4 linked regions of the Homo sapiens genome follow. The protein of the gene in region 4 purifies or fractionates together with the protein of the main gene of each other region. This does not show direct contact. Each region holds a gene or a part of one and is shown on either strand. Other genes may lie near its edges. The genes, in order: NMT2, PM20D2, AASDHPPT and ANGPTL4.

Evidence for each region.
Region 1: the proteins of ANGPTL4 (region 4) and NMT2 purify together in Homo sapiens (affinity purification with mass spectrometry; 2 studies listed by BioGRID and IntAct, with this or other methods). This does not show direct contact.
Region 2: the proteins of ANGPTL4 (region 4) and PM20D2 purify together in Homo sapiens (affinity purification with mass spectrometry; 2 studies listed by BioGRID and IntAct, with this or other methods). This does not show direct contact.
Region 3: the proteins of ANGPTL4 (region 4) and AASDHPPT purify together in Homo sapiens (affinity purification with mass spectrometry; 2 studies listed by BioGRID and IntAct, with this or other methods). This does not show direct contact.

The regions. Positions count from the first base shown.
Region 1 is NC_000010.11:15,165,682-15,173,094, reverse strand, and holds the start of NMT2 (glycylpeptide N-tetradecanoyltransferase 2), read left to right. Parts: upstream 1-4,401; 5' UTR 4,402-4,482; coding exon 4,483-4,592; intron 4,593-7,413.
Region 2 is NC_000006.12:89,141,110-89,149,065, reverse strand, and holds the start of PM20D2 (xaa-Arg dipeptidase), read right to left. Parts: upstream 3,012-7,956; 5' UTR 2,922-3,011; coding exon 2,457-2,921; exon of another isoform or gene 2,200-2,456; intron 542-2,199; exon of another isoform or gene 1-541. UniProt on the Homo sapiens protein: Catalyzes the peptide bond hydrolysis in dipeptides having basic amino acids lysine, ornithine or arginine at C-terminus. Postulated to function in a metabolite repair mechanism by eliminating alternate dipeptide by-products formed during carnosine synthesis.
Region 3 is NC_000011.10:106,073,520-106,080,680, forward strand, and holds the start of AASDHPPT (L-aminoadipate-semialdehyde dehydrogenase-phosphopantetheinyl transferase), read left to right. Parts: upstream 1-4,142; 5' UTR 4,143-4,191; coding exon 4,192-4,374; intron 4,375-5,947; coding exon 5,948-6,173; intron 6,174-7,161. UniProt on the Homo sapiens protein: Catalyzes the post-translational modification of target proteins by phosphopantetheine.
Region 4 is NC_000019.10:8,359,373-8,367,158, reverse strand, and holds the start of ANGPTL4 (angiopoietin-related protein 4 isoform a precursor), read right to left. Parts: upstream 3,005-7,786; 5' UTR 2,838-3,004; coding exon 2,520-2,837; intron 1,206-2,519; coding exon 1,095-1,205; intron 958-1,094; coding exon 840-957; intron 1-839. UniProt on the Homo sapiens protein: Mediates inactivation of the lipoprotein lipase LPL, and thereby plays a role in the regulation of triglyceride clearance from the blood serum and in lipid metabolism. May also play a role in regulating glucose homeostasis and insulin sensitivity.

The sequences.
Region 1 (7,413 bases), on a different chromosome or scaffold from region 4:
TTTCCTCCTCCCTTTCCTGATTTTCCTCTATCTCTTTCCTCTTCTTTACCTACTGCCCTCACTTTCTTCATCAGTTACTTTCTCCTCCATCCTTTCTTCCTGAAAGGGCCAGAAGCTCTAATTGTGGACAGGCTAGAACAGATCCTTTTGCCTCCTTTAGTATTTCTACTTCGAGTAAAAATGTCTGATGAGACAGTGTACTTCTGTAATATATCATCCTTATCAATAAAATAACTAATGAAGTTTGGCAATAAACTATCCAGTGATATACTCGTGGGGAAAACCTGAACACATTTAAGGAGTTTGGCAAGCAGTGCAGTTTCAAGGTGACCCTATTTATAGAATGGAGGCACCTTCCACCTCCTAAATGAACACATACTTCCATCTGCTGTGGCATTGTTCGGCTTCCTCTAGAATTTTCCTTGGCATCACCCGCAAGCCCCAACTTGTCCTACAGGGACAAGACACAGACTCACCAACTGTGAAGTTCTGAAATGCAGCTGATCTGCAATACTCACTGTGGCACCAACCTGCTGGTTTGAACAAGTATGAAAACCTTTTAGCAGAATACCAAGCAATAGGAGGTGCAAATTACCCTCACAGTGACCACGAGAAAAGCTTCTCCAACGCACAGTTGCAAATGGTGCAGGGTAGTTACCGGGTTCCTCAAAAATTAAAAAGAAACGGAGTCACTTAAAAAATAAAATAAAATCCAGCCAGACTCTAAAGCAAACCAGCTAGCAAGAATAGCTAGTGTATTGCAAAAGTAATGGGCTTTGCTTTTGTGAACCCAGAATGGAAAGTGCAAACTAATGGTTTGGCATAAGTCTTTTTCAGACATACCCAGATATACAGATAGTGATCGTGATAGTAAAAAAAGGAGTGTCTTTAAGATTTTTTTTCTTTTTTTCTTTTTTTTTTTTTTTTTTGAGACAGAGTCTTGCTCTGTCACCCAGGCTGGGGTGCAGTGGCGCCATCTCGGCTCACTGCAAGCTCCACCTCCTGAGTTCACGCCATTCTGCCTCAGCCTCCTGAGTAGCTGGGACTACAGGCACCCGCCACCACACCCGGCTAATTTTTTGTGTTTTTAGTAGAGACAGGGTTTCACCGTGTTAGCCAGGATGGTCTCAATCTCCTGACCTCCTTATGCGCCCGCCTCGGCCTCCCAAAGTGCTGGGATTACAGGCGTGAGCCACCGCGCCCGGCCTAAGGATTTCTTTTGGTCTTTGTTTTTCTGTAAGTTGGTTAGTTATTACTGCATAATAAAGCACTCCAGGCCGGGCGCAGTGGCTCACGCCTGTAATCCCAGCACTTTGGGAGGCTGAGGCGGGCGAATCACTTGAGGTCAGGAGTTTAAGACCAGCCTGGCCAATATGGCAAAACCCCGTCTCTACTAAAAATACAAAAATTAGCCCAGCATGGTGGCGGGCGCCTGTAATCCCAGCTACTTGGGGGGCTGAGACAGGAGAATCGCTTGAACCCAGGAGGCGGAGGTTGCAGTGAGCTGAGATTGTGCCATTGCACTCCAGCCTGGGCAACAAGAGTGAAGCTCCGTCTCAAAAAAAAAAAAATGGTTAGGATAGTACGTTTTATGTTGTATGTATTTTTCCAAAATTAAAAAAGAAGTTAAAACAATTTAAATGAAACAAGACCAATTGTACAACTATAATCTTACATCTGTAGTAGGAGTGGGCCAGGCAGAATAGAAAATTCCCAAAGGCCTTTTAAAATACACTGGCAAGATACTACTTAGCCCAGGGCCTGGTGGCTAGGCTGGTTCTCTCCTTTCCAATTGGAGGCCTCTGCCGCAGACACGCTCCACCAGATCATCGGTCAGGCCAAGAAGCATCCAAACTTGATCTCCCTCTTAGTATTTATTGGAGCTAGAGGTACTGGAGCAGGACTGTATCTCTTGCGTCTGGCATTTTTCAATCCAGATGTTAGTTGGGACTGAAAGAATCACCCAGATCCCTGGAACAAACTGGGTCCCGATGATCAATTCAAGTTCTACTCAATTAATGTGGATCACAGCAAACTGAAGAAAGAAGGTCCAGATTTCTAAATGAAATGTTTCACTATAAAGCTGCTTTAGACTGAAGGTCTTCCAGAATCCGTCCGCACAATTTTCCACTTCACCAGGAAATAGTTCTCCTCTAAATGAATGAAATCATGTTGATGTAATCTATTGGAGATTACACTGATTAATAAATAACTGAAACTTGAAAAAATAATACACTGGCAGCCATTTCACAGTGCTCCCATCCACCAAATAAACTTTAGATCTAAGATGCTGGAAGTTGCCACTTGGTTCCAATTCTCCAAATTCTGAAATTAAGCCAGGGAAATAAGTAAAAATATTTAGAAACATAGTGTTTCTATACGGGACAGTAGGATTTAGGAAGCCCCAGGGTCATCTGTAAACTTTTCCTTCCTTCCAAAGATTAATGCTGTAAAACATTTGTATTATATAATACTTCAATCCAGTACTGTACCGATGTACTTCAATCCAGTACTGTACCAACTTGTTTCCATTCTGGGGAACAGATGTTCCCTGTTTGTCATTGTTTTCTAGTGTTTCACTGGTTTTTGATGCCCTCATTTTATTTTTCCAGGATTATTTGTTTTCTTATTCTTTTTTAGAGCAGTTCTTAGTCAAAACTTCTTGAAAATTCAGATAAATATATGACTGCTGAGTTTCCTTTGCCTTAAGTTTTAAAAACTCTTTTAGAGAACCCTTCTGGCAGGTTAGAGTGGATGATTTGATTGATAGGCTTGCTCCTGGCCAGTTTCCTGTTGGTTACCCGAGCGGGCTGCGGGTTCTCCAACAATCCATGTTCACAGAGATGAGCTGCAGGAACCTCACTCATCTGTATTTGCTTCTATCCTAAAGTTTCACAGAGGTGACATGTGACATTTTGCCTCAGAAATAGTTGCCGTTGTTAAAGGCAATATTGTATTTCCTTTTGTGTTTTGACCCCATTTGCCCTTCTTACAGAATTTTAGTTGTCTCAATGCCAAACAGCTGACGGGCTTTGAAATCGCTCTGCAGTTTTCATCTTTTGATACTTCTAGCTCATTGCGTTTTAAAAACATAGTCTCCCTTGGGGAAAAAAGCCATAAAATGCTCCTAGTATCTTCTGCAAAAAAAGGACCCACACCAAAAAATTCAGGTGGCTCTTTAAAGTCTCATTTTCCTCACTGAGCGGGTTCTGATGATTATCTTTGCAAAACCACTGCGGAGACTTCCGGTGGCCTAGCAGCACATTTGAACAAGATCATCTCAGCAAAGCAAAGGACAGGACTGCTCTGTACAGAATGCAGTAGCAAATAAGAGAGGCTGAACTTCACCGGTCTTCTATTTGGCAGTACTACAGAATGCCTCCCTTCCCTCTTCTGAGAGAGACAGCGGACAATTTCAGCACAGAAGGCCGTGCACGTTTGCTTGGAAATCTAGGTCATGACCTTGACTTTGGGAAAGCCAGGGTAGCCTACCTGAAACTGTCCAATCCCCCAGCATCGTGGACACGTCCCCAAGTCCCTCAAGATGTCTGTTCTGGTCTGAGCCGTCCGTAGTAGTGTCCAGGGAAAGCAGGGGTAGCTCAAAAATTTCTGTCAAGAGTTTTAGTGCTGCAAGCCTGGTTGGGACAGGGCGGTGGAGGGCTGGAAATACTGTTTTTGACTTTGAATTTGATTTTATAATGTATTAGATGGATAGATAGATGCGAAATGGAATTGTTAACATGTATGTGGAGGGGCGGGAAGAGTTTCTGGAAAGCCCCATCCCTGAGTGCCTACTCCTGAGTGGGAAAAACCCCTGCACGGGCTGGGAGCGCTCCCTAATTCGTCCAGAAGTAAAATCGCATGGCCTGTGTTCCAAAAATGCCGCCACTCAGGATGTCAAGTCTGCACGTTTGCAGCTTTGAGAGCCGAGCCCCAGGCAGAGGCACCGCGCAGGCCTGGATGTACAGGACTCGGCCCTGTGCAGGGCTGGCCAGGGTGAGCAGGGTTGGAGCTGGCGGGGCGGGGAGGGGCGGGGCCATCTGGGAGGGGCTGCGGCGGTGGGCGGGGTTAGAGGGCGGGTTTGAAGCCGGCAGGGTGGGGAAAGGCGGGGCTGGAGGGGAGGGGTCTCAGAGGCGGGCGGGGTTAGAGAGCTGGATTGAAGCCGGCGGGACGGGGAGAGGCGGGGCTTGGTGGGGAGGGACGAAGAGGTGGGCGGGGTTCAAGCCCGTGGGGCAGGGCGGGGCCGGCGGGCAGGGCGGGGCCGGCGGGCTGGGCGCGGACGGTGAGGGGCGGGGATGGAGGGCGGGGCGGGACGGAGGGCGGGGAGGGGGCGGGACGGAGGGCGGGACGGGGCGCGGGCGGGGCGGGGCGGGGCGTAGCGCCCGGGCTCCGACTCCAAGCAGTACGGCGGGAGGCACTAGAGGGAGCTGCGGCCGCTCCGGCCCGGCCCCGAGCACCGCCTCCCCAGCCAGCGCCGCCGCGATGGCGGAGGACAGCGAGTCTGCGGCCAGCCAGCAGAGCCTGGAACTGGACGACCAGGACACGTGCGGGATAGACGGGGACAATGAGGAGGAGACGGAGCACGCCAAAGGGTAGGGGCGGCGCGCTGGCGCACCGGGCGCGACAGGGCGGGGACCGCGCGCGCCACGGTCTCCCGTTCGGGGGTGGCTCCCAGGACTGGGGGTTCTTCGGCCGCTCCGCCCCGCGATGGCTTCTCCGTGGCGCGGAGCCCATGGTGAGGTCCGGGGCGCGCGGCTCGCGGGAGAGTGCAGTGCGCGGGGAGGCGAGGCCCGGGGTGGGCGGGGAGGCTGGGGCCCGGGCGGGGAGACGCTACTGTCACTTGCCGCGCGCCCCCGGCCAGCCTCGCCCATCCCCGCCGGCGGCCTGGCCCAGGAGGCGCCTGTTGCCCTCGCCCGCGGGTGGCTCCGGTGGGCGCCGAGGAGAGGCGCTACGCCCTTCCCTTTGTGGCGGCCGCAGCCTGGGGTAGGAGGTCGCCCTCCTCTGCTCCCTGCCATCCTTGTTAAGTCCCTTCAGACTCCCTCTCCGCAGCCGCCACCCGAAAAGAATGGGCAAAGACGTGGGTGGAGCGGCGTGGAGGTGCCCCGATGGTGTCGGGGCCGCAGGCGGCGAACTGCGCAAAGTTCTGGCGCCGAGGGGGTCCCGGGCCCGGCCCCTGCTGGGGATACTGGGCTTTGCACCGCCTCGCCTGTCCCTAGAGCTCTTCAGAGCAGGGCCGATCCCCTGAACCGGGCTCCCGCTGACCTGGCCGTATCCTGTTTGCAAAGCTGGTATTTGATCTCCAAAACTCGATGCACCACGCATTTTCACACTTGATCGGATTTCTTAATCCTTTCCCTTTGCCCCCGAACCCTGCAGACTTGATTTGCTCTTCTGTTGGAGAAAAGGATTGCTTCAGGTGAAGGCCGGTGTTGATGCTCTCTTTTTAGAGGCAGTGGGTCATTTTAAATAAAAACTGGTGTCCTTTTAAAGTGCTGTTTACATTACCCTTTTACCCTATTGGATTCAAACTATGCGCTGGCACAGAGCGGTTCTTGCTACACCCTTAGAAGTGAGATTTTTCGAACCATGGTGAGTGATGGAGAAGTGGGTCAGCTTAAAAAACATGATAGGGAGGCCTGAGTCACAGATGGTTTACTCAGTTCGTAGAGAGATTCTTGAAATGATTGATCATTGAAAGTGTAAATCATTTGCATTCTACTTGTCTACTTTAAGATTTATTATAGAAAGGGACTTTTGACTGACCTCTAATTCATTATAAAATATTAACAAATGAAGAAAAAGAAAAGCTGACTATGTGCATCTCCCATTTGCAAGTTGTTTTTATCTTTGCCGTGAATACTTCAGTGGCGGCTGCAAGTATCGAATGTTCGAGTCTAGAATATTTTTTTTTTTAAAGAGAGGAAAGGAAATTGCATAGGAATCTGAACCTGAGCCCTGTTTATGCAGGGATAGAAACGTGTTTGTGATAGATAGCTAAATACAAATATGTTTTTGAAACGGTAGTTCTATTGCCAGAAATGGGCCCAGGTGCAGATGCAAGCTGATGGATTAGCTTCAGTACCTGTGTTTTCTTTCTGGAGAGACCCTGGACTTTTATCTTCTCTGCTGTAATTTCTGTTTATTGTTCCTCCTTTGATTGATATTCTAGGTTGGGGGCTTGATTAGGACTTCTTTGCTTACACTGTTGAGAATGCCCCTGGTACAAAGAATTCCTCATCTGTGTGCGCATTGATCTGAGCCTGTCCCCCGACACCTTTCAAGAAGCTAAAGTTCCCAGAGTAGCACCCAGAGGCATCTGTGCTGCCTTCGGAAGTTTTCAGTTTTGTATATCAGCACATTTTATATATTAGAAAGGTTAATCAAAATTTAGAGATGCCCCATGGACTGAAATGTTTTCACCAAGAGCAGATACCATGTTAATAGCTTCTAGTGGGAAAAGATTAACATAATGGATGTATTGTACTCTATTTAAATGTAAGGAGATTAGGAAAACTCCAAATGACTGCTCTCCTTGGATTGCCTGTTTGGATTTGAATTTAGACAATGTGTGCCAAATTTGGGGGAGTAAATGTGTTTTATTTGGCTCATGTACTGATGATATCGCAGTAGAAACCTAGGTTTTCTTTAAGTAGCTCAAGTTTGTAAATGTTAAAATTTGAAAGACTCTTTTTCTATACTCGGCCTCTTCATTCCCATCAGTTTAAATAAATAACAAATAATGAGCCTTTGGATGAATCAGTAAGAACATGTTTCACCTCTTAAAGGCAGTTTGTCAATTTGAGGCCACCAGGCAGCGGCCAGTGCAGAGAGGTAATTTACTGAATAGTGCCCTTGTGGCCTGAAAGAATTCATTTACCCCACCACTCAGTATAATGTATTTACTAGTCCTTTTAGACATATTAAGTTGAAACTAAAGCCTCAAATAAAAGGAAAATACCCAATTAGAGTCTTGTTTTGCACCAAAATGTAAGTATTTAAATATGTAAAACTGCATATGCTGTTCTTTTATTTTCATGGAATTTTCTTCATGGACTAAAAAGGGTATTTCGTTTTATAGATAATGCTAAGAGTCCATGAATGAAATATCAGATGTTTTATGTTTAATTAAAAGCAATGGCGTAAGTATTATAAAATACTTGAGTCTCACTGTCTTTATATCTTGTTTTTCATGGAAAATGTACCTTTTTTTTTTTTTTTTGAGACAGTCTTTCTCTGTCACCCAGGCTGGAGTGCGGTGGTGCAATCTCGGCTCACTGCAACCTCCGCCTCCTGGATTCAAGCAATTCTCCTGTCTCAGCCTCCTAAGTAGCTGGGATTACAGGCGCGTGGCACCACACCCAGCTAATTTTTGTATTTTTAGTAGAGATGGGGTTTCACCATGTTTGCCAGGCT
Region 2 (7,956 bases), on a different chromosome or scaffold from region 4:
TGGTGCAAAGTATGTACTAAAGACACTATAAAAAGCTTTTCCCAATTTTACAAGTCAACTAATGGCAAAGATAAAAAAAAATACTACAAGTTTAGTCCCTCAAAATTTGTTAGGATTTGTTTCAAAAAGGTTCCTCTCGACTAAGCCTTTCAGTGTATGTATGTATATAATTATTCTTAAGTACTTTACGAGTCAGAAACTTTCTGTTAACTTACTACTTATCCTCACAACAACCCTGTGAGGTAGGTGGGTGATCTCTATCATCATTTTACAGGGGGTGTTTTTGAGGAATTGAGTGAAGTGTCTTGCCCCAGGTCACAGAGCAAGTCTTCAGGCAGAATTAGGATTAGATGTCCTGATCTTCTGGCCTAAACTCTGATTCCTTACTGGGCTACCTATTTTAAAAGTCTGAACTCATTAATCCTTTATGAAGAACATTAAACAAGTCTTAATGCCACAGTTAGAAACAGCCAACTATTACACAAACTTACTAATTCGATTCCACCAGTTCAACCAGGCAGATTTATTGGTCACCAAACACCTAATTAAACAAAAGAGAACTTTACAGAATAAACATTTTACTTTGATATTTAAGCTTAACTGCTTCAAACAATTTTAAAAATCAAAATAAACAACTAATATATTTTCAAGATCATGTATAAGAACACAATGAAACAAGCTGGAAAAGTCTTGGCTTGCAAAGGAAATCAACTTAAATTCCATTTTCAGATAATTAATAACTTAACCTTGCTAAAATTGAGAACAACCATTTGAAGTTAGAAGAGTGGGCCGGGAGCGGTGACTCATGCCTGTAATCCTAGCACTGTGGGAGGCCGAGGTGGGCGAATCACCCGAGATCCGGAGTTCGATACCAGCCAGGCCAACATGGCGAAATCCTGTCTCTACTAAAAAATGCAAAAATTAGCTGGGCGTGGTGGCACACACCTGTAATCCCAGCTCAGGAGGCTGAAGCACGAGGATCGCCTGAACCCGGGAGGCGGAGGTTGTAGTGAGCCGAGATAGGACCACTGCACTCGGCCTGGGCGACAGAATGAGACTGTCTCAAAAAAAAAAAAAAAAAAAAAAGAGTGTACATTTCTCAAAGTTTAGCTTTTTTTTGGCGGTTCTACAGTGCTCAAACTCTGACATGAAGCCGCCGCTCTTTTTTTTTTTAAGAGGAGGCCTCGCTCTGTTGCCCAGGATGGAGTGCAGTGGCGCGATGTCGGCTCACTGCAACCTCTGCCTCCTGGGTTCAAGCGATTCTCCTGCCTCAGCCTCCCGAGTAGCTGGGATTACAGGCGTGAGCCACCACGCCCAGCTAATTTTTTTTTTTTTAATATATTTTAGTAGAGACAGAGGTTTCACCATGTTGGCCAGGCGGGTCTCGAACTCCAGACCTCAACTGATCTGCCCACCGCTCTTCATTCTTGACCCTTAACTCATTAAATACGATATGTCTCTCGCTGACTACTCAGAACCTTTAAAAACGTGGTTGAAGCGAAATCTCTCCAGTGTTTGTGACATGGCAAAGCATGCTTCCCCCAACCCAAACAAAAACCTAACAAATGCAAAAACGAGCCTCCAGAGACAGAAAAAAGAAGGCAGCTAAAGTGAAAAAGCCACAAAAGATGTAGTGTTAGGATAAAAGAGGAAGGTTACTGACACTGGGGGAAATGAACTAAAGAGTATGAAAATAAAACATTTGTTTTCCCCTTAACTGAATGACGATTGAATCTTAGCTCATAGTGTAGAATATACCATCTGGAAAAGCAGAGTAAAACAGGATTAAACTTGCCCTACGACAAACATAAACGACATTTCCCTGTTTAAAGAGTCGAGGTATTTCTTAAAATCATAAAACAAAAAAATTAAGACTTAAGGATGAACTCATCTATGTATAATGCTCATTCACTTCCCCTTTATTTGTATACTTCTAGGGGTCTGGTGGTTCTAGCGACTGAAAATTCCTATCCAAATACCAATGACTTGAATCACATTTTCTAGGACTGCCACAAACAAAAGATTTATTTGGAGACGAATAAAAAGGGGCCGTAGGATTACCTACAAGAAGTTATTTCCTCCTGAGATTGATGGCACAACCTTGTCAGCAAATTGCTGTTGCCTCTCTCAGTTACCAAAAATAACCCGTAACAAACACCAGGCTTGGGTGTAAGTTCTTTCCTAAGGGAACAACTCAGCAGAGCTGTTTATAACTAGAGAGGAGGAAACAATAATCTGCAAGATGTCGCCAGGTCGGCAACGCGAACTGACTTTGACTGGGGGTTCAGCTCTGCTCCTGCGCCGAGGCGAGGACCGCAGGTTTAGCGCGGTCCCACACACACCTGCCCCGGGCGGGAGGGCACCGAGGCGCGCGGGACGCACGAGAGTCCCGCCCTTCCCGGGTCGCCCCCGACCCGGGCAGTCGGATAGGGTCCCGCACCCGGGCCCCACCTCACCTTCACGGGCGGAGGCGGCCTGGGGAGGCCCTCTAAGGCCCCCCTCACGCCCAGCGCGGCCGCCGCCCCGACCTCAGCGATGAGGTTGTGGCCGCAGGCGTGGCCGATGCCGGGCAGCGCGTCGTACTCGCAGAGGAAGCCCAGGTGCAGCGGGCGTGGCGTGGCGCTCGGTGCCCGGGCCTCCGGCGGCTCCCACTCGGCGCGGAAGGCCGTGGGCAGCTGGTAGTGCGGCTGCACTGCCCAGGAGGCCGCGGGCGGCTCCCGCTCGAAGAAGTGCGTCAGCACGCGGTGGGCATGGTGCTCCTCGTAGGCCAGCTCGGGCTGGCTCCAGATCGCGCGGCTCAGGGCCCCCAGCCGCTCGGCCGCCTCGTCGATGCACTCCGCCGAGCGCAGCTTCAGTAGCTCCAGCTCGGAGCGGCCATTGCACGCGCCCCCTTCCACGGGCCGCTCCCCTCCGGGCCTCATGCTGCCCAAGCCCGCTGCCCTCTGCGCCCTCTCGCTCCCTGGCTCGGCCGCAGGTAGCGACCGCCCGCGCACGCGCCCAGAGGCCTCCAGGACCCCGGCGGAGCGCGCACGCGGCCACACAGCTCCCAGGGCACCACCCCCAGTCCCGGGGCCGCCCCCGGCGCCGCGCGGGAAACGCTGGCGGCCGCTCGTACCCTACCAGGCGCTCTGCCCCGCCGTGGGGTTTTGGGGGTGCTGTGGAGAAGGCAGGGCTCGGGACTCTTCCACCTCCTTGGCTGCTCTGGCCTTTGAGTTATGCTCTAAGATTATCGATTACTTTTCCGTTGTTGCTTATTTCCCACAGCAGCAGAATGAGAACGGTTATTAGTTAATAGCCATCAGAGACAGACCAAGTGGAACACAGTCCTCGGAAAAACGCCACTCTGTAGCATTAGTAATTAAAACCTCACAAGGTTTGTATTTCCTGAAGGAGGCCGTCAGTGTCAATGCTGTACTAACGACGGTACTGTACGTAAGTTTCGGTACTGCCCCCACTTTCTTCTCCTTGACATTGTATTACTAAAAGCTGCAGCTACTCTCTACAGTTTTCTCATTGGTTACTAATGTCTGGAACAGCAGCTAGATTATGCAGTAAGCTCTTGGTATGTATTAGCTATTATATAATAATTTATTTGAATAGAGTAGAACTAAAAATTTGAAATGAGTTAAAACCAAAGAGTTAAAAGATTTATGGTAGTAAATATTCATACTGTTTTGTTGATTTGGACAGTTGTCTTGAACAGCTTTGAAAGGGAACATATGACAGGTTTCGTTTATAATTTTAATTGATGCTGAACTCCACTAACATGATATGTGCAGCTGGTGTTACATTATAACTGAGTTTTTTAATTACCCAGTGAAGAAATTCAAGATGTCATGCTCTTGTTTTTCTCCAGAGTGAACCACAAAGTCTGAAAAACTGTTGTTGACGGTATGCCTATTAATAACACTGTAGATGTTTATATTCTGAGGTTTTCCACATATTAAAAGCTTCTATCAGCTCTTCATACCCTATCATCTTTCCTTAATTTGTCTCAACTATGTTAAATGGGACACAATATATTAATGTGATAAACCAAATGAATATTTTGAAAATAAGTCTAAGGGAAGCTAACATGCACGAAGACTATCAACTACTGTTTTTACTACTCTATATGCTAATAATACCAGAGTAAATGTCACATTCCATTCACGTCTGAAAACTTTCTTTCTCAGTTAACACTCCAACAAAAACTCAGCTCTAAAAACAACAAATGTGTTATTAAATTCCTGGGCCCCCTTGGCGATAATAAATCTTTCTCTGGTATTCTGCTGAAGAAAATTACCCTGTATCCACGAGATCCAATATTATCCTGCTCAGTTAGTTGGCTAAAAAAAGGGGAGAAGGGGGGATTGGAGAGCAAAAGCAATAGGTGACATTTGTAGAGCAATTACTCTGTGCTAGGCACTGTTCCAAGGGCTTAGCATTTGTTAACTCATTTAATCCTCACAGCAAACTATGAGGTGGTTAATGTGGTTATTTATCTTCATTTTACAGATGTATGTCCAAGATTATAGAGCTAGTAAGTAGTGGACCCACTGTAGAACAGAAGCCAGAGTCAGCCTCCAGTGGCTGACTTTCAGCCACCATGGTCTATTGCTTGTGTAAACAGACATGCAAATTCATAAATGCATCTCCAGTTTATCTATTCAAATCAGAACCCACAACACTCATTTTGAATAAATTTTACTGCAGCAACTCTGCCTGCTGACATCAGTAGAACCCATGTTTGCCCTCCTCAGGCATCAATAAACAGCAACAGAAAAGGGATGCATATAATTTCATATAGAAGCTGCTATTTATATTGCTTTGCAGGAATTAACAAAGCTGCCACTTGAGGTAGAGGAAAGACAGATTCATTTCAAGCTCTGTTCCTTGTGTATATATGTGGGTGGGTGGGTGGGTATACATGCCCACAGGCACGTATGTATTCAGTTTCTACTGTTGACACCTTGTATTTCTTGCTCATGGTATTTTGCACCCTTGAATTCATTTATTTGATAAACTGTGATAACTTGCTGACCGTTTATCTTCCCCTCCAGGCTTTAAACTCTTTTGTTTTCCCACTGCATTCCCCAGCACCTAACATCTTATGGTCAGCATTTCCTCTGTGTTAATAAATATTTGTTGGCTGATTATTCTTCTTGAATCTAATAAACTAACTGAATAATGGCAGCAATTAACCATTAAACGACACTGACTACCAATAGACATTGTTATGCTTCTTCCTAGACTTCTCAGTCCTTTATGTGGAGCTGGGGGCAGGAAGAATTGCTTCTGGAAGCTGATGGAGTTGGACATGTGGCTTTCTAGAATCTGGTCAGCTCATAAATTCTTACTATTACTTTCATTTGTACCCATAATATTCATACAACTGTCTACCCTATCTATGTGCTACTGGTAAGGAACCTGTATGTTTTTATTAGAAACAAAAAAAAATGTATACAAGCTCCCTTCCTTTAGCTGGTGCTGGATCTGAGGAAACAATACAATATCCAGAATTTAGTATTAAGATGTATAACCTTTTTGGGGGGGTGAGAGGAGTGCAGATAGTTCTCTCTTGAGGACTGGTTTTAAAGTATATAAATGTTCTTTCTTGGCTCCTGATGAGAAAAAAGGGGAAAAAATATATAAAGATTCCTCTTCTTTCCTGGCTGCTTAGAAAACCAGCTGTCATCACAACTGACTCAATAACTTTGAGAACAGGACATTCATGACAAATGAGTGCTGTGGTGGAAAGAGTAGATCAAAAATTTCCTTTACCCTGGAAAAGCAACTAAAATACAGCCAAATTGTACAACTATACTGGGTATTATTTTGGGCTTCAGATTCAGAACTCCTTTTGAAAAGGCAGCAGGCTTTTGTATGGTTTATATTCTTTGAATTAAGATAGAAATAATAAAATAAAATCCCCAACATGGCAAAGCATGAGCTCATGGCAAAGCATGAGCTAAATGAGAAAAAAAAGTTTTTGAAAACAGAAAAAGGAATGGAATGAAAAATAAAATGAAGAAAATTAAAGGTAGAGAAAAAGTAAATAGAAGTACCAGAGAGCTTCAGTGCAGGATTTCAGGAATGAAAAGCAAACAAACAAAAATAATTGTGGGGGGCCGGGCGCGGTGGCGCACACCTGTAATCCCAGCACTCTGGGAGGCCGAGGTGGGTGGTTCACGAGGTCAGGAGATGGAGACCATCCTGGCTAACATGGTGAAACCCCGTCTCTACTAAAAAATACAAAAAATTAGCCGGGCGTGGTGGCACGCACCTGTAGTCCCAGCTATTCGGGAGGCTGAGGCAGGAGAATGGCGTGAACCCGGGAGGTGGAGCTTGCAGTGAGCCGAGATCGCGTCACTGCACTCCAGCCTGGGTGACAGAGCGAGACTCCGTCTCAAAAAATAATAATAATAATAATAATTGTGGGGGAAAGGAATAAAAAGTGCAAAAATGATTTAATCCAAGGAGAGAGTGCAGATATTTCACCAAAAAAATCAAACTTATAATACCTTCAAAATATATGATATTTCCAAAAGTGCATGTGAATCCAGCCTACATCGTTTCAGTTTAACAATACTTGGAACTACAGCAATTTTCTCCTGAACAAAATGCTGGCCACTGCACGATTTGAGGACTGCTGCTGCCAGCATGGAGAAGAAGCAAATCACAGTGTCACTTTGGTATACTGGTCATTTACAACATTCTCCTAAGCATCCCCAGACACACATGCAAACTTGGTTAACTCCAGAAACTTCTCTAGCTGAAACAAACACGTAACACGCACTAGATAGCACATGTAAAATCAATCTGGGCTAAGGTGTTGGAAGAGCTGGTTGTCATATGGCAGAAAGCAGACAACTAAGAGAGTAGGTGAGCAGAAAGGTGAATTTGATTGGGGATGAAGGGACATAGAGGAAGTGTACAACACATTGCTAAGGAATTACAACTTTAGCTGGTTTTGGTGGCTCATGCCTGTAATCCCAGCACTTTAAGAGGCTGAGGTGGGAGGATAGCTTGAGCCCAGGGGTTCAAAACCAGCCAGGACAATATAGGGAGACCCTGACTCTACAAAAAATAAAATAAAATAAAATAAATAGTAAATAAGCCAAGCATGGTGGCACACATTTGTGGTCCCAGCTCCTCTGGAGGCTGAGGTTTGAGGATCGCTTGAGCCCGGGAGGTCAAAGCTACAGTAAGCATGATTGCACCACTGCACTCCAGTCTGGGCAACAGAGTGAGACTTTTGTCTCAAAGTAAAATAAAACTTGGACAATGGCTAAACTATTGGATGTTATTAAGCAGGAGAGAGACAAGATCAGAAATTTGTTCTACAAGAATAATTGATGACTATTTGGAAGATGAATTGGAAACAGACTTAGGTCTGAGATAAGTTAAAAGCTTTTGCAGGCCAGGCGTGGTGGCTCACGCTTGTAATCCCAGCACTTTGGGAGGCCGAGATGGGCGAATCACTTGAGGTCAGGAGTTTGAGACCAGCCTGCCCAACATGGTGAAACCTCATCTCTACTAAAAACACAACAATTAGCTGGGTGTTGGGGCGGGCGCCTGTAATCCCAGCTACTCAGGAGGCTAAGGCAGGAGAATCACTTGAACCTGGGAGGTGGAGGTTGCAGTGAGCCAAGATTGTGTCACTGCACTCCAGCCTGGGTGACAGAGTGAGACTCTGTCTTTAAAAAATAATTTAAAAAATTAAAAATAAATAAAAGGCTCTTGCAAAGTCCAAGGATTCCAGAAACATTCCGTGGGCAGAAATGGCCAGACTTAATTCCTCACTGAATGTCTGTTTAGGTGAAGAAGGTGCTCCAGAGAAAGGGGGAAAGAGAACTGAAGTTTCTCGGGTTAACAGCTGAGTGAATGGTAAAGCCATGAAACAAAATAGGGGAAATAAGAGAGTGAGGGGCAAATTGATGGATGTGCATTAGACACGTGGAGAGGAGGTAGATG
Region 3 (7,161 bases), on a different chromosome or scaffold from region 4:
GCTAAGATCATATAGCAAGTAAGCAGGGAGTTGGTATGTGAACTCAGTTTGGCTCAAGAGCCCTTGCTTTCAGCCACTACAATATTAGGGAAAGCCTTTCTGAAGTGTCATTTGAGAATTGAATGATAAGAAGGTAAGGGGTTGGTGGAAGAAATCACATATAAAGCCCTACAGGGGTAAAGGAGTCCTTCAGTTTTAGGAAATTAAAGGCGGCCAGTGTGGCTGGAGTAGTTAATGAAAGGAAGAGGGTTAGGAGATAGGGCTGCAGAAGGCAGTTGCTACCTCAGTCAGGATGCTATGGGTCACAGGAGCTGGGATTTTATTCTAAGTGAAATAGGAACGACTGATTACTTTAAATTGGACAGTGACATGACATCATTTTTTTAAAAAATATTTTTCTAGCTAATATGTCAAGAATGAATTGAAAGGAGGTAAGAGAAGTAGGGTCCAAGTCATTCATTTATTCAACAAATATTAGACAGTTTATGGAGTAACAAATATTGTGGCAGGTACTATTCTAGATACTAGAAATACAGCGAAAAACAACATAGACAAGGTCCTCTACCCTGGAGTCTACTTTAGAATGCCGAACACCCCCCCCCACACACATACCCCTTCCTTCTCATACATTAAGAGCTTCTCCCACCCTACTAGACATTTTCCATTAGCATGCAAATTCTAGTATCTTCCATCTTTAAACAAACATCAAACAAAAATCTGTCCTTTGACCTTTTATTCCCTCTAGCTACCATTCCATTTTTCTACTTCCTAAATCCAGAAAAACTTCTTTAAAGGACACTCTGTGGTAGCATCACCTCCAGTTATCGTCTCAACCCACTACAATAAAATTCCTTTCTTTTACTCCATTAAAACTGCCCTTGTCAATGTCACCACACTACCATCTTGAAGGTAAATTCTCACTTCTCTCTCCTCATCTTATTTCACCTCTTAGGATAATTCACACTGTTAACTAGTCCTTGAAACACTCGTCTTTTAGTTTCTGTGCCACAACATTCTTCAGGTTTCCTACCTTGCTGGCCTCTCCTTCTCAGTCTAATTAGAGGGCAATGTAACATAAGAATTAAGGGCATAGATTTCTAGATTTAGCTCTGAAAGCAAGTTGTGCTTATGGCATAGAAGACATTGGAAGAGAGTGCTCCCCTTTCTCAGGCAGGCTAGAAAACTGATTAGTATTTCAGATGAAAAATGATGGTGGGTTATACTAGATTGTTAACAGTGGGAATAAAGAGAAATAAATGGATTTTTCTGTATTTTAGAAATAGAGCCAAAAACACTTGGAGATGGATTGGATATAGGGAGTCAAAGAAGAGCAGCATCATGGTTTCTTCCTTGAGAAACTGGTAGAATTATGGAGCTATTCAAATAAGTCTTGGGGGAAAAAAGAAGGGTTTGAGGTAGAATAAAGTTTGTGACCCAATAAAAAGTTAGTGAGTATATCTAAAAAACACCTAGACTTAGAGATGATCTCATCCGATGCCTTTCCATTGAAATTAATACATGGAAGAGGTTATGTCACACATAGGATCCTGTGTGACCAATGTCACACAGACAATTGGTGGTAGAGCTGGAAATAGAATACGAGTCCCTCAGAATCCTGCTAAGAAGCCACAGATCAGCACCAAGCAAGATGATCATTACAGACTGAGTGAGCCCCTATTACTTTAGTCCTCTTCTTCCCCTGACCAATGCAGTAAAAAATATTTTAATAAAATTGTTGGGTTCATTTAATATAGTTAAGCAAGTTATGAACTGCATATTTATATTTCCTTAATAAAAGTGAGGGAAGTAAAGGCAGATAGAATATAAAAAGCAGTGTTACCCTTGACAGTAATAAATCTATTGTGGAGTCATTAATAACATTTACTCATGTATACTATTTGTAAAAGGTATACATGACATTCCCTCTCAAGTACTGTACATTCTATTTTGCAAGATAACACACATGAAAATAATTCAGGACAATAGGAGAGACGTCATAAGGCAATACTAGAATAACTGCCAAATGAATTACATAAACAATACTGTTTTGGAAAAAGGTACTCTGAAGTAGGCCCTAAGAGAAGGTTTAAGCTAAGCTCTGGAGAATTTGTAAAACCACACAGGGAAGGGGATTAAACAAACCTATAAAATATGTTCACAGGGTGATAGGTTTGGGGCTGAGGTTTGGAAGTGGAGAGAGTAAGCTATTTTAGACTAGGTGAACAGAGACATTCTGTTTGGTATGAGATTTGGGCCTGAATGATACAGAGGAAACAAGGAATGTGATAATGGGAGAAGGGGAGAATATTCTAGATTCTAGACCAAGTACAAATAATCCCTACGTTACTGTCTGTGTATTAGGCTCCATAGATCTAATACACAGAGATCTTGCTCGATGGTAAAATAATGGGATATGAATTCCTGAATTTAAACAAATTCTCTTTCTGAGCTCATTGTCTCCATCAGTAATAACTAGTGCACAGAACATGTGCAATAACGTACACAGAAGTGTTTTGGAAACAGAAACGTAATGTATCAAAGTTATAAAAATCAGTTTAAAACGACAAGAAGGAAAGGTTATATGATTCTTAGTTAAAAATGGAGAAGTGAGTTATGATCATTGCTGATATGGGTATTAGTATCACTTACGTATCTTTACACTGTCTCTTATTGTACTTTTTATGCGTATGATTTATTTGCCTTACCAGATTGTAAGCTCCCTGCAGCTGGTAAGCAGATTTTCAACATGGCAGCTGACACAGGCTTTTGGTTAGCTAAGATGATATATTAAGCCAATAATTCGTTTTACTGTCCTTTGGGGATCTGAATTTGTGTGTGTGTGTGCTCAGAATCCCATCTACTTTCGAGGGATTCGGGGGGCTTATGATATCACGAAAAGTTAATGAAGACAAGTATAGATAAAAACATAATAGAACCCATCTTAAATAGGACAGAAATCATAGGCAGGTAATTGTGTTAATTACTACCGCTGGCCTTTGGCTGATATTTCCGGGCAGTCAGAGGAAGAAGGAAATCGGCTGAATCCCGCAGTACCGCACTTTAATCGACCTCCAGGTAGTCATTTACAGTCATCTGCAGAGACCAACTTTTCCCTGGACCAAAACCTGCAGGGCACTTGGATCGCGTGGGCTTTCATACGAGAGTCAACAACAGCCTACACGGAACAACTAAGGAAACAGACATACATCAATATGACCCTTCGCAAAGTCTGAGAAAATAACTGAGCAAAGTTATTTACTTGTTTCTGTTGCTGTTAGAGCAAGGACCTCTGTCATGATGGAAACACTGATACCTCAACAATGGAATCCTGTTTTCTCGCTAGTGCTCTAGCCCAGGCTTGGCAATAGCAAAACAGCACCTGGGTCGCTTCATCGCCCCAAATAAACAGCCAGCATTAGCTCAGCTGCTCGCTGGCAGCCTCGGATCCAGGCGGGGTCAGTGTTGCGCACTGGGGATAGTGCCTCTGCTCGGCCTTCGGAGGGAGGGTTTCAGGTAGGCTGCTGCTAAGGGTCGGGAGCGTACTGTGTGAGGGTGGGTCTTAGGCTGATGCGGATGGGGGCAGGGAAAGAAGGAACTCAGGGCTGATGCGTTGCACAACTGCAGGGGGCACCACTGCAGACCCCCTCCTAGAGATGGAAACCTCTCGTGCCCCGTACACGAAGCAGCTGAAGCCAAGGACATTCTCTTCTCTGTGGGTCACAGGGGCCAACTCAGACCCTGAGAATAAGGGCTACCATCCCACTCCTCCCTCAGACCCCGGAGCTCACCCACCTGCAACTGCAGTCTCCGAAGTCTCCACCCCAGTCTCCCTGCCTCCAGAGGACTGGTTGCGATTGGCCTGCACCGCTGTCCCGTTAACTCTTCCGCAAGTGTGAGTGGCGTAACTGTCGGGCTCTTGGCCTTGGTCCCGCCCTTCGCTCGCCTCCGAAGCCTCGCCTACTTGACGTCATACAATGCCGCAAAGCGCAGGGCTGATCTCCGTCTCCGCCCCCAGCTGCTTTCTCCGAGAGGAGGTGGCTGAGTCGGGGGCGGGCTGGGAGGGCTGTCGGTGGGCCAGTCTGCGTAGCGACGGCCCGTCCCCTGCGCACGGACGCCGGGAAGAAGGGGGTGGGGCCACGTTTGCGTCCGCGCCATCAGGCCCGAGATAGCGGCGAGGTCCGCTTTCAGTGTATGGTTTTCCCTGCCAAACGGTTCTGCTTGGTGCCATCCATGGAGGGCGTGCGCTGGGCCTTTTCCTGCGGCACTTGGCTGCCGAGCCGAGCCGAATGGCTGCTGGCAGTGCGATCGATTCAGCCCGAGGAGAAGGAGCGCATTGGCCAGTTCGTCTTTGCCCGGGACGCTAAGGCAGCCATGGTACTACAGGTCTTTTTTGGTATTTAGAGCCTAGGAAGCAGATCTTGGGGGAGGCGGGCCGGGCTGTGGAGACCCGACACTCCCGCGCTGGCCGCGACCCTCTCGCTGTGGAGCCTGTGGCCGGCCCGGGCGACAGCAGCCGGCGCTGCGGAGTTGTGGGCGACGCACGGCCTGGTTTCCACGGCCTTTGTAACCGCCTTGGAGGCCGCGATGGCTGTAAACATTATCTCTTTCCCCTTGTTATTTCAAATGGAGACCCTCCTAAACCATGAAATAAGTGTAGGGAAGGCCGACAAAATTGGGTTTTTCTGTAATGAATGTTTTTATGTCTTTATCTTTAAATGTTATTTTTTTTTGTTTGTGTGCGTTCATAGCCTATGCTTATTCTGCCTGTTAAATATCCCATCATTCTCCAAGGACTCCCTGCACGTGGTAGGCCCTAGAAATTATTGACAGTATGATTTAGTTTGTAGCCCTGCGCTCCCCGGGATTGAAGCCAATGAAATTGAAGCCAGAGAGGATACCTTCCTCACTAGATGCCATGGGAAACAGTATTTTACGTAGATTTATTTATTTTAGCTATGTATTTTGAAGCAACAAATGGAAAACTGGATTTCAAAACAAGTAATCTGTACAATATGGTGCAATTTGAAACAACCGTGAATTACCATCATTTAAAAGACAGTCCTTTCTTAAAAATGTCCCATATTGAAACACTTTCTGTTTGAAATGTAGACTAGTTGATAATTTTTAAGGCACATTGGTGAAAATTTTTTACTCATTTGTAAGGAATTGTAAAATAAGCTACATTTAAAAGCCTGCAGTTTTTAAAAGTCAGTGTTAGAATTGAAGAAGAAAAAAACCTGAAAGATATTTTTAAAAATATATACTTTGTCATCTTATATTCTTGTTTTTTTGTGTGTGTGTTTTTAGTAATTATTTAAAAAATAATAATTGGAGGTGGGAGAGAGCAGAACAAGATAGGTCATGCCTTGCTAATTGTTGAAGCTGGGTGATCAATATATGGGATCTAGAAATACATATGCACAGATGTAGGTACAGTAGGGTTGCTCACTGCAGAGTTGTTTTTGACAGCAAGTCTAGAGCCAGCCTAAAATGTCCAATAAAGGGGAAATAATATTATGAAATATGCTACAGTTAAAACTGCATGGACCAGACGTGTGTGTACAGACATAAAATACTTCCCAATACTTATAAATTTAAAGCTTATATGTGGTAGAATACTGCATAAGTATAATCTCATGTTTGTGTTTATATGTAGAGTTAGCAAAAACATGTAAATGCACATATATTTAAATACAGAAAAGACTGACAGGATGCCAGCTGTTAACTTTGGTCACTAGCAAAGGAGAGGGAATTGCTAAGGCGGGCTTTAACTTTTTATCTACTTAAGCATTGCTTAAGTCTTAATTAACGTGTGTTTAATACTTAAGTATTTTGAAAAGTTTTAAAAATGAAAATTTTAGAAACCAAAAAAAAGTACTATTGCATACAGTGTGCTTGTATCTTTAGTAGACATCAGTACATACCAAATGTTTTATGTACTTAACAGGCTGGTCGTCTGATGATAAGGAAATTAGTTGCAGAGAAATTGAATATCCCTTGGAATCATATTCGTTTGCAAAGAACTGCAAAAGGAAAACCAGTTCTTGCAAAGGACTCATCGAATCCTTACCCGAATTTCAACTTTAACATCTCTCATCAAGGAGACTATGCAGTGCTTGCTGCTGAACCTGAGCTGCAAGTTGGAATTGATATAATGAAGACTAGTTTTCCAGGTAACGTTGCATTTTTCTAGTATGGCAGTTAAGTGTCTCGATGCCTCAGTTCTATTGCTATTGAGTAATCTCAGGCCAGGAGATGTATTAGAGATATTTCAGTTTAGGGAAAATGTGCTTAGTACACAAAGGTAATGGAGAGCATAAATCTGAAAAGGGTATATTTCCATGAATATTTACAGACTTACACATAAATAATAGATTATCCGTTACTGGGGATCCATAACTTTGCCTAGAGGTAAAGTGAAATATTAAGTGAAATTTTTTTTGAATTATACTTCAATTTATTTCACTTAAACATTAACCACAATTTTTCAGTTAATTGTTTGTTTTTTAAAAAAGAATCTGAATAGTAAAGTACATTGTAGTCCTTATGTAGAGATAACGTATACAGTTGACACATGAACAACACAAGTTTGAACTGCATGGGTCTACTCATGTGAATTTTTTTCAGTAGTTGGCCCTCTGTCCCCATAGATTCTGCATCCACAATCAAACGTGTATCAAGATTCAGTATTTGCAGGATATGAAACCTGAGGATGTGGAGGGCTGACTTCATATATGCAGGTTCCATAGGGCCGCATGCGCAGATTTTGGTATCTGAGGAGGGTCCTGGAACCAGTCCCCAGTGGATACCAACGGGCGACTCTTTGTTCTGCATCTAAATACATCTCTTTTTAGCCCATTTATGTAAGTAAAAATGAGGAGCAAGCATTATTAAAATATTTAAGTTGCTTATATATTGCCTTAGAAATTTGTTAGTGGTGGCTTTAAGGACCACTAACATTTGTGGTGAAGTTGAATGTACCCAGGCAATTTAATACATACTAAATACAGGTTCTCTTAACTGCTGTATATTTGTCATCATCACTAACATTTAATGAACACTTAACCACGTGTCATGGCATTTTACATAGTGCTTTAGACATATTCTGTGATTTAATTCTCTCAACTACCCTATGATGCATATACTGCTATTTTTAAAGAA
Region 4 (7,786 bases):
CCCTCAGGTCTACAGTGCTGGAAGCCTGCCACTGACCCTAGGGTGTGAGAGGGGGATCCAAACTTTCACCCAGTTGGCTGTGGACAGCCACAGATGCAGGGAAGGATGAGGACCACAGAGAAACCGTGTGGGGCCGTGAACTTAGAGAACCGCGAGTCTGCATCGGACACACGTGGACATGCTGTGGTTCGAGATGAACGGAGATTTGGGAATAAAGCACCTACAACTTGTGGTGGCAGCAAAAGCCCACTTTCTGCGGTGGGGAGGGGGCCGGCGGGGGCGGGGAGGGAGGAGGAGAACAAGAGAGGAAGGAGGAAGAGGGGTCAGGGACCTGGAGCATTGGATTTGTAAGATACAAGAGTGTTTCTGGTCTGGGAGCTGGGGGTTCCCAGCCCTAATTCCCACATACCCCAAGACATTGTGGAGGGCCCAAATCTACAAACACTACTACCTGGCACCCCCTCCTCCATGACACCCTCCCCTAGAAGGTTCTAACCTTCAGGATGGCACCCCGAACCCCATTTCTACCTTCTCCAGCACCCCTGCAGCTCAAGTCCCTCAAGACCTCTTTCTCCACCTCTGTTCCAATCAGTGATCAGCAGGGCTTCAGGGACAGCCCACTGGCTTGCAGAGGAGAAGGGTTGGGTGGCCTGGCTGGGCCAGGTCAGGGCTGAGGAAGGAGGTGCTCCCATCAGCTTTGACCCAGAGACTGGTGAGCCCTCAGGGACTCCAGGCCAGGACATCTTCTCCTTAAGGTGGACCTGACAAGGAGAGGACCAGCAATGGCAAGTGGCGGGGTAGGGGTGGCCACCGGAGAGCATCGAGGGGCAGACACTCACGGTGCAGGCGGCTGACATTGTGAGCCGGGTCAACTGGCTGGGCCATCTCGGGCAGCCTCTTTCTTCGGGCAGGCTTGGCCACCTCATGGTCTAGGTGCTTGTGGTCCAGGAGGCCAAACTAGGATGGGACGGGAGGAGGGTGTCAGGTCCTGCCTGGCCCCACGTCCCCAGCCACACGTCCAGTTCTCACCACCTCCCTCTCAACCTGGGGTCCAGCTATCAGAGGGACCTTTTCTCCCTTGATCCTAGGGTTACCTGGCTTTGCAGATGCTGAATTCGCAGGTGCTGCTTCTCCAGGTGCCGCTGCTGCTGGGCCACCTTGTGGAAGAGTTGCTGGATCCTGCTGTTCTGAGCCTTGAGTTGTGTCTGGGGAGGGGTGAAAACCTTGGTGAGGACCCAGCTTGCCTACCCCAACCTCTTAATTCATCCACTCATCCATCCTTCCAAATCTCCATCCGCTGAGGCCAGGCAAGGGAGTCTTTCTTTTTTCTTTTTTTTCCCAATGACGGGGTCTCGTTCTCTCGCCCAGGCTGGAGTGCAGTGGTGCTGTCACAGCTCACTGCAGCCTCCAACTCCTGGGGTCAGGCGATCCTCCTGTTTTCAGCCTCCTGTGTAGCTGGGACTACAGTCATGCAGCTCTATGCCTGGCTTATTTTTTATTTTTTCAGACAGAGTCTCGCTCTGTCACCCAGGTTGGAGTGCAGTGGCGCAATCTTGGCTCACTGCAACCTCTGCCTCCCAGACTCAAGTGATTCTTGTGTCTCAGCCTCCCAAGTAGCTGCCACCACACCTGGCTAATTTTTGTATTTGTATTTTATTTTATTTATTATTATTATTATTTTGAGATGGAGTCGAGCTCTGTCGCCCAGGCTGGAGTGCAATGGCATGATCCCGGCTCACTGCAACCTCCGCCTCCCGGGTTCAAGAGGTTCTCCTGCCTCAGCCTCCCCAGTAGCTGGGATTACAGGCGCCCACCACCACACCCAGCTAATTTTTGTATTTTTAGTAGAGACGGGGTTTCACTGTGTTGGTCAGGCTGGTCTTGAACTCCTGACCTCAGGTGATCCACTGGCCTCGCCCTCCCAAAGTGCTGGGACTACAAGCGTGAGTCACCGCACCTGGCTTTATTTTTATTTTATCGCTATTATTTTTTTGAGGAGTCTCACTCTGTTGCCCAGGCTGGAGTGCAGTGCTGCGATCTCGGCTCACTGCAACCTCTGCCTCCCGGGTTCAAGAGATTCTCCTGCCTCAGCCTCCCAAGTAGCTGGGATTACAGGCATGCACACCATGCCAGGCTAATTTTTTGTATTTTTAGTAGAGACGAGGTTTCTCCATGTTGGCCAGGCTAGTCTCGACAGCAGGTGGAGGCTCCGTGAGCCACTGCGCCCGGTCGTTTTTTAATTTTATATTTATTTTATTTTATTTTATTTATTTTGTGTGTGTGTGTGTGTGTGTGTAGAAGAGACGGGGGTCTCGCTATTTTGCTTTAGGTGGTCTTGAATTCCTGGCCTTGAGCGAACCTCCCTCCTCGGCTTCCTAAGGGGGGAGCCCATCCCTTGACGCAGGGAAGCCCAGGGAGCCACAGTTGCGCACCCCGCCCCCACGCCCCACTCCTGTCCATACCCTTCCAAGCCAGGAGAGCCACTAGGGGCGCGGAGAACCAGCCCTGGGGACACGTACCTGCAGGCTGTGAAGGACCTCAGGGTCCACCCGGCTCTCAGGGGCTAACGGGAGGTCGGTGGACCCCTCGGTTCCCTGACAGGCGGACCCGCACGCGCTCAGGCGCCGCTCCAGCGCGCTCAGCTGACTGCGGGTGCGCTCCGCGTGTTCGCGCAGCCCCTGGCCGAGCTGCAGGAGTCCGTGCGCCAGGACATTCATCTCGTCCCAGGACGCAAAGCGCGGCGACTTGGACTGCACGGGTCCGCCCTGAGCGCTCAGTAGCACGGCGGTGGCGGCGCAGAGCATCAGGGCTGCCCCGGCCGTCGGAGCACCGCTCATCCTCTTAGGTAGCCTGGGAGCGGGGATTCGGGGACTCTCGGGGACGTTGGGGTTCCAGGTGCGAGGACTGGAGACGCGGAGGACCGGGGGTAAGACCCGCTTGGTTGCAGAAGCCGCTGGAAAGAATCGGATCACAGTCGTGTGAGGATCCGCTCAGCTCGGCTTCTCCCCGCCGCGCCCGAGGACGGTTTTTATAAGTTGGGTGCGGAGTGGGCGGAGGAGTCTTGGAGGCGGGGTGCGGGGAGTGCTGGGGGCAGGGCCTGTGGCCGGGGGTGGGGTCCTGTCCTCTGGAGGCCTGGTAGTCTGCGGGCTGGGGGATGCCCTGGGGATGCCAAACTGTGGCTCTCCCGCCCCCGCTCCAGGCTCAGGCAGGCCTTCCTCTACGAACCGTGGGAGACGTGACTCTTCTTTCCCCCACGGTGCCCGCCTCTAGTGTGAAATTGCAAGCCCCCTATTCCGCCCCCGCCTTACCCAGTGGCGGAGAGGGCGCACGCTTGAGGTCAAGACTTCCAGACCAGCCCGGCCAACATCGTGAAACCCAGTCTCTACTAAAAATACAAAAAAAAATTAGCCGGGCTTGGTAGTGCGCGCCTGTAGTCCCAGCTACTCGGGAGGCTGAGGCAGTAGAATCGCTTGAACCCGGGAGGTGGAGGTTGCAGTGCGCCGAGATGGCGCCATTGCGCTCCAGCCTGGGCGACAGAGCCAGAGTACGTCTCAAAATGAAAGAAGAGAAAAGAAAAGAAAAGAAAGAAAAGAGAGAGAAAGAAGGAAAGAAGGAAGGAAGGACGGAAAAAGAAAAGAGAGAGAGGTAGGGAGGGAGGGAAGAAGGAGAGAGAGAGAGAAAAGAGAGAGAGAAAGGAAAGAGAGAAAGAGGAAGGAAGGAAGGAGGGAAAGAAAGGAAGAAGGAAAGAAAGGAAGGAAAAGAAAAAGAGCTGAGTTCAGCGGAGCCCGGAACTCACCAAAAGTCCTTGCCTTGCGGAGGCTTCGTGTGACCTCCATCCCAAGACCAGGAGAGACTTTTCTGGGCTCGCATGTTCCTTCCCGTGAAAGGGTTCGTCATCGCAGCTGTGTTTATGAGATTCTTTGACTTCCATTTCTCCCCTGAGCCCGAAATTATGAGTGCCTTAGCGGCAGGACTTGGATCAGGGCCTCACCCCCATAGCCTACCCTCTACCGCCAGGGTCTTTAATGTCCTGAGCTTTGCCTATAATAAAGCAGGAACTTAGAGAACAGAAAGAGGAGACACAAGGAAGGGAGGAACCAGGGCGGTCGCCCATGACTGTGGTCGCAGCTACTTGGGAGCCTGAGGTGGGAGGCTCACTTGAGCCCAGGAGGTAGAGGCTGCAGTGAGCCACAATGGTGCCACTGCACTCCAGCCTGGGCAACAGAGTGAGATCCTGTCTCTAAAAAAGAAATAAAATAAAAGTCTGTGGCCAGGCGCGGTGGCTCACGCCTGTAATCCCAGCACTTTGGGAGGCCGGGTGGTGGGAGGGGGGGGGGGGCGGATCACCTGAGGTCAGGGGTTCGAGATCAGCCTGGCCAACATGGTGAAACCTCGTCTCTACTAAAAATAAAAAATTAGCCGGGTGTGGTGGCACGTGCTTACAGCTACTCGGGAGACTGTGTCAGGAGAATCGCTTGAACTCAGGAGACGGAGGTTGCAGTGAGCTGAGATTGCACCACAGCACTCCAGCCTGGGTGACAGAGTGAGACTGTGTGTCAAAAAAAAAAAAAAAAGTTTCAGACATGGAAGACCTTCCTCTTTCTCTCCCTCATTCATTCATTCACTCATGCACTGAACGAAGGTGCTGCTGCCCTCTAAGCCCAGCCCCTGTATGTTTGAAGTTCTCAGGCAGGTGGAGATACCCCAACATTCTGAGCCTGGGGTAGGGATAGAGTTGGGACAAAGGAAGTACTGAGTGAGGCTAAAGGGCTGGACCACATTCATTCCACAGGGCTAAGTGTTCATTCAAACTTGCACCGATCTCCTCTGCCTCTTCCCTACCCATTCCCCTATACCCTGTCAGGAAGGGGAGGCTGGCACAGAAAACCAGCCTGCCAGGAAGAACTCGGGGCAGGTTGGCTCAGAGCACTGGCAAGGAGAAGGGCATTGACTCAGCAGGGCTCCAAGCCAGCTCATTCTCTGGAATCTGAAACTGCACACCCAAGGGCTGACGTGCAGGCTGCCACTCATACACTTGGCCCCGTCAGCTGGGCCAGATGCCAGGACAGCAAATCCCTCCCAGCAGCAGTGGACAGGAAAGGGAGGGAGGAAAACCCCAGTGAGGAGTAGGTTCAGATGGTCACCGTCTGGCCTGTCCACCCCCAAGCCCCCAGCCTCTCTCTGAGTAGGGACACAGCTATCCCAGGCTATCCCAGAATGCAAGCTCCTCCTCTTCCCCACCTTCTTAAACTGAGAGAACTGATCAATTACTTCCCCAACCTGATGACCTTTTCATGATCTGATTTTCAGGGACTTCTTTGGAGCCATGTGTCCCACAGCACAAAACACATCACAGACCCAGGGTCTTAAGGGCACCTGCTGTGAGCAATCTACAAAAGAGTCTATACTGTCGCCTCAAGTTGGCTCTAGATTTTATTCTAAAAACTGCTCTTTATTTTTTATTTATTTATTTATTTATTTATTTATTTATTTATTTTTTGAGAAGGAGTCTCGCTCTGTCGCCCACGCTGGAGTGCAGTGGCGCAATCTCGGCTCACTGCAAGCTCCACCTCCCGGGTTAGTGCCATTCTCCTGCCTCAGCCTCCCGAGTAGCTGGGACTACAGGCACCTGCCACCATGCCCAGCTAATTTTTTGTATTTTTAATAGAGACAGGGTTTCACCATGTTAGCCAGGATGGTCTCGATCTCCTGACCTCGTGATCCGCCCGCTTCGGCCTCCCAAAGTGCTGGGATTACAGGCATGAGCCACCGCGCCCAGCCTATTTTTTATTTTATTTATTTATTTTTTTGAGATGGAGTTTCCCTCTTGTCGCCCAGGCTGGAGTGCAACGGCGCAATCTCCGCTCACTGCAACCTCTGCCTCCCAGGTTCAAGCGATTCTCCAGCCTCAGCCTCCCGAGTAGCGGGGATTACAGGTGTGCACCACCACACCTGACTAATTTTTTGTATTTTTAGTGCAAACGGGGTTTCACTATGTTGGCTCTGCTGGTCTCAAATTCCTGACCTCAGGTGATCCACCTGTCTCGGCCTCCCAACGTGCTGGGATTACAGGTGTGAGCCACTGTGCCTGGCCTAGCCTTTTTTTTTTTTTTTTTTTTGAGACAGAGTCTTGCTCTGTTGCCCAGGCTGGAGTGCAGTGGCCTCATCTCGGCTCACTGCAAGCTCCACCTCCCAGGTTCCCGCCATTCTCCTGCCTCAGCCTCCTGAGTAGCTGGGACTACAGGTGCCCACCACCACGCCCGCTAATTTTTTGTATTCTAGTAGAGGGGGTGGGGTTTCGCCATGTTGCCCAGGCTGGTCTCAAACTCCTAAGCTTAGGCTATCCACCACCTCAGCCTCCCAAAGTGCTAGGATTACAGGCATGAGCCACCACGCCCAGCCCTGTTTTATGTATTTTTTTTTTTTTTTCTGAGATGGGTCTCACTCACCCAGGCTGGAGTGCAGTGTCACAATCACAGCTCACCGCAACCTCAAACTCCCAGGCTCAAGTGATCCTCCCACCTCAGCCTCCCAAGCAGCTGGGACTATAGGCATGTGCCACCAGACCTGCCTAATTTCTGTAGATTTTGTAGAGACAGGATTTTTGCCGTGTTGCCCAGGCTGGTCTTGAACTCCTGAGCTCAAGGGATTCACTCGCCTCGGCCTCCCAAAGTGCTGGGATGACAGGTGTGAGTCACTGTGCCTGGCCAAAAACTGACCTTTAGAATGTGGCCTCTTACCCAGCAAAGACAAAGTCATCCTGATCAATTGTTCCTGGAGCACCTACTATATGCCAGGCACTGTACTGGGGCGATCACGGTGGGCAAGACCGGGTCTCCAATCCCAACGCGTGGGCTACTTTGGCCAACATAGTTAAAAATTGTTAAAATGACCAATTTTATATTATGTATATTTCTTTTTTTCTTTTTCTTTTTTTTCTTTTCTTTTCTTTTTTTTTTCTTTTTTTTGAGACAGAGTCTTGCTCTGTCGCCAAGGCTGGAGTGCAGTGGTGCAATCTCTGCTCACTGCAACTTCCACCTCCTGGGTTCAAATGATTCTCCTGCCTCAGCCTCCCGAGTAGCTGGGATTACAGGTGCCCACCACCACGCCTGGCTAATTTTTGTATTTTAGTAGAGACGGGGTTTCGCCATGTCCAGGCTGGTCTCTAACTCCTGACCTCAGGTGATCCGCCTACCTCGGCCTCCCAAAGTGCTGGGATTACAGGTATGAGCCACTGCGCCCAGCCTGTTATGTGTATTTCACTACAAATGTAAATGCCATTAAGCTAGGCAAGGTGGCTCATGCTTGTAATCCCAGTACTTTGGGAGGCCAAGGTGGGAGGACTGCTTGAGCCCAGGAGTTCAAGATTGGGTAACATGGCAAGACCCTGTCTGTACAAAAAATTTAAAAAATTAGCTGGGGCCAGGCTGGGCACGGTGGCTCATGCCTGTAATACCAGCACTTTGGGAGTCCAAGGTGGGCAGATCGTGAGGTCAGAAGTTCGAGACCAGCCTGACCAACATGGTGAAACCCGGTCTCTACTAAAAATGTAAAAATTAGCCAGGCGTGGAGGCGCGCGCCTGTAATCCCAGTTACTCGGGAGGCTGGGGCAGGAGAATCGCTGGAACCCGGGAGGCAGAGGGTGCAGTAAGCAGAGATTGCGCCACTGCACTCCAGCCTGGGCAACAGGGCGAGACTCTGTCTCAAAAAAAAAAAAAAATTAGCTGGGGCCCGGCATGGTGGCTCACACCTGTAATCCTAGCACTTTGGGAGGCTGAGGTGGGTG